2 separate regions of the Homo sapiens genome follow, and region 1 is linked to region 2. A link means that fine-mapping ties the variant in region 2 to the expression of a gene that starts in the linked region. Tissue or cell type: whole blood. Region 2 holds a variant in brackets; the other region holds the start of a gene. All regions are shown on one strand. Distances are from middle to middle. Region 1 holds the start of UACA (uveal autoantigen with coiled-coil domains and ankyrin repeats). Region 2 has its middle 26 kb from the start of UACA.

Region 1 (2,911 bases), 26 kb after region 2:
GAGAACAGAGTAACTGACCATACACAGACACTTTAAAGAGCCAACAAGAACTAAATGACTGGAGATCTAGAGGAAGGGGGAGGAATCAAAGAAAATTTTCTTCCAAAGATCTAATCAAGATGAAATTTAATAATATTTTTGGGTAGTTAGTTGTTATTTACTTGTTGTATAGGGTTAACACAGTCTTTGAATGCTGCCTCTCCAAGAAATTCTGAAAACTTTCTTACAGTATTTGAAGAAAACCTTGCGTTACTATAAAGAAACTCTAAAGAGAGCAACTGACCTTTCAGACAAAAAAGAGTCCTTTGTTAGTCAGAAAATGTGGACCGTTTGTCTTTTCAAATGGATGCATGCTACGATAAACGTTTTGCTGGGGGGAAAAATGACTCCAAAGAAGACTTTTGAAGATGTCACCCGAACAGCAAATTATTGGGTGCTGAGCACCTTCCTGTTTCTTCATCCTCTTAAATAATTTTTACTAACCCAGATTTCTAGGTAAGATGATTTAACTTCATCGTATACGTTTACATGTAATGTGTTTCTACAGAAAACAAAAAACCTTTTTGAAGAAAAAAGGGCGTAACTTTTTTTGACAACTTAAATCACTGGCTGTGGGAGTCATTTTTAATTGATGGCACCTCTTCTCCTCCCTCCCCGCCCCCATTCCGTCCCTTTGCTTCCAATACGGCGGATTCTTCACTCAACAAATAAACGAGCACGTAACTTGTACTGTAACTTACTATAACGTCTTTCAAGGTCTTTCTTAACTGTACGTTTTTCTGCACAATCAGCACCTTATTTCTTAGAGACTGTTTATTTCTGGAATTTTTGATGCGTGTGGTGGTTTCCAGGCACCAGGATTTGGTAGTAAAACAGGAGACTGAAAAGAAGTTGCTCCTGAAAGCTGTTCTGTGTGCAGGTAACCAAGAGTCATTTCTAAGACCAGACGGAAGGGAAGGAACTTTACTTGGTAAAGAGCGCGTGGGTGGAAAGAGGAGGGGAGTCCGGGAAGATGAGAGGTGGCAAAGGCGGGACCCCGTGCTCTCTCTAGATCTTAAGCTCCGGGTGGGCGGGCGCCGGTGGCCTGGAGCCCGGCCTGCGCGCATCTCCACGCCTCTGGCCGCCCACCTCCTCCGCCCCTTCCCGGGCTAAAGTTCCCAAACTTTTCCTCCAGCTGGGAGAGGAAGGGTGTTACTCAGTTTAAAAGGGAAGTCCCGCCCCATTCCCGCATTCCGATTGGTCGCGGTTTGCCACGCCCCCGCCAGGGCAGCGGGTCAATTGGCTACGGGAGGGGAGCCCCGCCTCAGGCCTGTCGACGTCTGCTGCCCGGGGCCCGCAGGTGGCAGGCAGGTGGGGCTGGTACAGCCCGCGCCGCCTCTGCTGCAGCCGCTGCCGTCTACTCCTTGCGCGCTGGCACTCCGCAGCCTTTAAGGTTCGCGCGGGGGCCAGGCAAGAGTTAGCCATGAAGAGCCTCAAGTCCCGCCTGAGGAGGCAGGACGTGCCCGGCCCCGCGTCGTCTGGCGCCGCCGCCGCCAGCGCGGTGAGTCCCGCGGTCCGGGCTGCGAGGCGCTCCGCTCCGGGAGCAGCGCAGCCCTCCTTTGCTGGCGAGTTCGCGCGCCGCCTTCCTCTGCTTTTCCTCTGCCAGTTCGGCTTCGGCGGCCCTGGCGACTCCTCCCTGAGGCCGGAGACTCCGTCAGCCCAGAGACCCCGGGGATCCTCCCCGCCGCCGCACCCGAGCCTCTACGGGTCTCTTCCCCACCCCTTTCTCCCAAGCCTCCGAACTTCTGGAAGAAACCTCAGTGGGGCGGTTCTGGCCCCCTCCTCCTAAATCCAAAGTTCCTCGATTGGCACCCCTACTCCGCTCTTTCCGTTGACCCCCCCTCGTCGCTCTCCTCTCCCGGCGCTCGCCCTGCTGCCCACGCCCGCTCGGCCGTGTTGGCTCCCCAGTCCCCGGGGCCGGGGCTCGCACCAGGTAGGGCAGGTGGGCAGGGCTGCGCACCCCGCGCCACCGTGCCCGGACTCCGGACCTTCCCCGGGTCTGAGACAGCGTCAAGCCCTGCCGGGCTGGTGGACGTCCCGTGCTGGCCGCTGTCGTTGTCACTGGGAAGTTTGATTCCCCAGCGAGGCAGAGGGAATCGGCTTAGTCGTAAAGACAAAACCCCACAGGGTGGTGACCCTAGAGGTGGTGAAGTTGGGAGGGGTGGTGGTGATGTGGGTTGTGTAAATCGCACCTGTGGGGCGGGATCCGTGCGGGGCTCTTTCGGTGCTGACCTGCAGCGCGGCCTCAGTGTGCGCGCCAAGGAGTAGTCGGGGCCTCTTTAGTTGGCAGGAGAACAGAAATCTTGAGAAACAGCCTGACCGCAGATGTTGTGATTTAGATAATTTGTCACGTTACAAGAATGGCGATATCATCAAAATTCTATATCATTAAAATAAGTGCCACTTACAAAGTCTTGGAAGAGTCGAACGTAAAGGAGTTGTTATGCTCCAACTGCACAGTTACCTAGTTGGGGTAATTAAAATGAACCTTTACAATTCAACGCAGATTTTACCAAATGATTATATTCTTTTTATCAGAATACTAATTAATCTGCTTCTGCTTTTTTGAGTTAATTCAGTTATGCCTTTCTCTCCACCTATATCGAGGATTATTTTACTTGGACATAAAGGAAATTGTGGAGGAACTACCTAGACTTAAATTCCTATTTCAAAAAAAGAGAGTAGATTCAGATGACGTAATTGATGTTCTTTGATAAAGCATGAAGTCGTTTTATAAGCTCATGGAAAACAGAGATTACTTTGTTTCACTTTTTTTTTTAAAAAAAGTAACTGGCAGAAATGTCATTTAGTGATATTGGAGTTCATTACAGTTAAGATTCTACTTCTGTAATGCAAGTTGTGTTTTTAGCCT
Region 2 (2,911 bases):
TTTAAGAGGCTATATATTTTGCCAATCACAACATACATTTGAAAAATAAGTACAATAGTCCCCCCATTATCTGTGGGAGACACATTCCAGGACCCTCTATGGATGCCTGAAACCTTGGATAATACCAAACCCAATTGCCATCAGTTGAAACATGTTCTGTACATGTCTTCCACCCACAAAAATTAATGTCTTTTCCATCTAAACTAGGCACTTACCACACACTGTGGCAGTAACTTTTGCAGTTTGGTGTGTGACAGCCAAACTAGTACAAACTCCTTATCATGGTATTTTTATTTTTTATTTTATTTTATTTTTTTTTTTTTTGAGACAGAGTCTTGATCTGTCACCCAGGCTGGGATAAGTGGCACAATCTGGGCTCACTGCAACCTCCATCTCCCAGGTTCAAGCGATTCTCGTGCCTCAGCCTCCTGAGCAGCTGGGATTACAGGCATGCACCACCACACCCAGCTAAATTTTTTTGCATTTTTAGTAGAGATAGGGTTTTGCCACGTTGGCCAGGCTAGTCTCGAACTCCTGGCCTCAAGTGATCCACCTGCTTTGGCCTCCCAAAGTGCTGGGATTACAGATGTGCGCCACCATGCCTGGCCTTTATCATGGATCTAAACAACCTCATCATGCAGTATCTTTTCTTTCCTTATTAAGTGGAGAACTTTTATCTTTTCCCTCAAAGGAAGCACTTGATGCCTTCTCTTTGGCATACCCAAATTGCCAGCACCACTACTCTTTATGCTTTGGGGCCATTAAGTACAGTAAGTCCTCACTTAACATCATCAATAGGTTCTCAGAAACTAGGACTTTAGGCCCGGTGCCATGGCTCACGCCTGTAATTCCAGCACTTTGGGAGGCCAAGGTGGGCGGATCACCTGATGTCGGGAGTTCGAGATCAGCCTGGCCAACACGGAGAAACCCCGTCTCTACTAAAAATACAAAATTACAGGCATGGTGGCGCATGCCTGTAATCCCAGCTACTCGGGAGGCTGAGGCAGGAGAATCGCTTGAACCCAGGAGGCGGAGGTTGTGGTGAGCCGAGATTGCGCCACTGCACTCCAGCCTGGGCAAGAAGAACGAAATTCCATCTCAAAAAAAAAAAAAAAAAAAAGAAACTAGGACTTTAAGTGAAACAACATATAAGGAAATCAATTTTACCATAGGTTAATGACACAAACAATAGTTAAGTTCCCTCAGCATATTTCTGGTGACAAAACTGTCATCAAACTTCTAAATATATGCCAAACTACTCATATTAAACCTTACAATAAATGTGAGCTATGCATGTATTTAAGAAACATTATTAAAAGCAAGTAAGATAATTATTTACATTCTTATTGCAGTTCAGAGCCATGGGTAGCTGGAGCCTGTCCCAGCAGCTCAGGGTGCAAGGTGGGAACCCACCCTGGAGAGGGTGCCATTATCTCACAGCGTGCAGCCACACCCACACTCACACCCACACTCACTCATCCTGAGATGAGGTAGACATGCAAATTCACCTCATGTGCATATCTTTGGGATGTGGGAGGAAACCCACGCAGACATGAGGAGAACAAGCAAACTCCACACAGATGTCGGCCCCAGACAAGAATTTATTTTTTTTTTTTCTTATCAACATTATAACAGAGGCCGGGTACAGTAGCTCATGCCTGTAATCCCAGCACTTTGAGAGGCTGAGGCAGGTAGACACTTGAGGTCAGGAGTTTGAGACAGGGTTCTCTACTAAAATTACAAAAATTAGCCAGGTGTGGTGGCA[C/T]GTGCCTGTAATTCCAGCTGCTCCGGGCTGAGGTAGGAGAATTGCTTGAACCCGGGAGGCGGAGGTTGCAGTGAGCTGAGATCATGCCACTGAACTCCAGAACTCCAGCCTGGGCAACAGAGTGAGACTCCAACTCAGAGAAAAAAAAGAAAAAAAAAAAGGACAACGTTATTCAAGGCCTTGTTATCCTGTAAAATAAGAGTCACTTGAACCCAAGCACCGTGATACGTGACAGTCGTCTTATAACAGAGATGGCTATCTAGTGACTAACGAGCAGGTAGTGTCTGCAGTGTGGATCCACTGAACACAGGGAGGGTCCACATCCCAGGCTGGATAAAGTGGGACAGTGCACATTTTAAAACTCATGAATTGGTTATTTCTGGAATTTTCCATTTCATATTTTCAAACCTTGGTTGACTGTGGGTAACAAACATCAGAAAGCCAAACCATAGATAAGTGGGGAGGAGACTACCATTTGAGACATGTCTGAGTCATCTTACAGATATAAGGATTTGTGATGCTTAGCATAACCCATAGTTTACAAGAGGTCTAGGGTCCAAAGGTTGGGAACCACTGACCTATTGCATTTATTGACAATGAATCACAGTCCTGGTGATGTTGCTTGCAACTGTCACCTAACTCTTCAGGTCTCACCATCTCCCTCAATTACACTGAATCTTTCCTGAGGACAGGAACGTCCACTTATATGCCTTTGTACACCCACAATGCTAATGGACCCATCAATTAAGGACCATTAATTGAGCACTACCCATGAGGAGGACACTGAATTAGATTCTGTGGGAGGTAGGAAGTGCAGAGTCCAGTTTCTGCCCTTCAGATCTCACATCTGGTTAGAGATATGGCAAATGCCTTTGAGAAATGAGGTAACAATTTAATGGCTAAACTTCAGAGTGAAAGAGAGGTTATGGGATAGATTAGGAAATGAGTTGAACAGATGCTGACTGCTATGAGTACAGAAAAGGAGGAGTTAAGAGTATGCTGCTGAGCTGGAAAACTATGTAGAGGGGTTTGAGTGTGTGAGCCTGAAAAAGGATTAGTACTCAGGCACTTCTTTCAACTCCTGGAAGGTGCTCAGAGAGTAACTGAACAAATACATGCATAAGAGAAACACTTTTGGTCATTTGC

Evidence for each region. PIP is the estimated chance that this variant, and not a neighbour inherited with it, causes the effect. A credible set is the group of variants that fine-mapping cannot tell apart.
Region 1: UACA starts here. The variant in region 2 is the best candidate, but not a certain one, in a credible set for the expression of UACA in whole blood (INTERVAL, PIP 0.51).

Annotation. Positions count from the first base shown.
Region 1 is chr15:70,761,959-70,764,869 of GRCh38, reverse strand. UACA (uveal autoantigen with coiled-coil domains and ankyrin repeats) reads left to right here and starts at 1,312. Exons shown (of 19, transcript NM_018003.4): 1 at 1,312-1,540. The coding sequence starts at 1,463. RefSeq lists a silencer at 1,138-1,547.
Region 2 is chr15:70,788,001-70,790,911 of GRCh38, reverse strand. No RefSeq gene overlaps it. Among named protein-coding and RNA genes, the nearest start is that of UACA, 26 kb to the right of the region's middle. The variant C/T (reference allele first, on the strand shown) is at 1,766.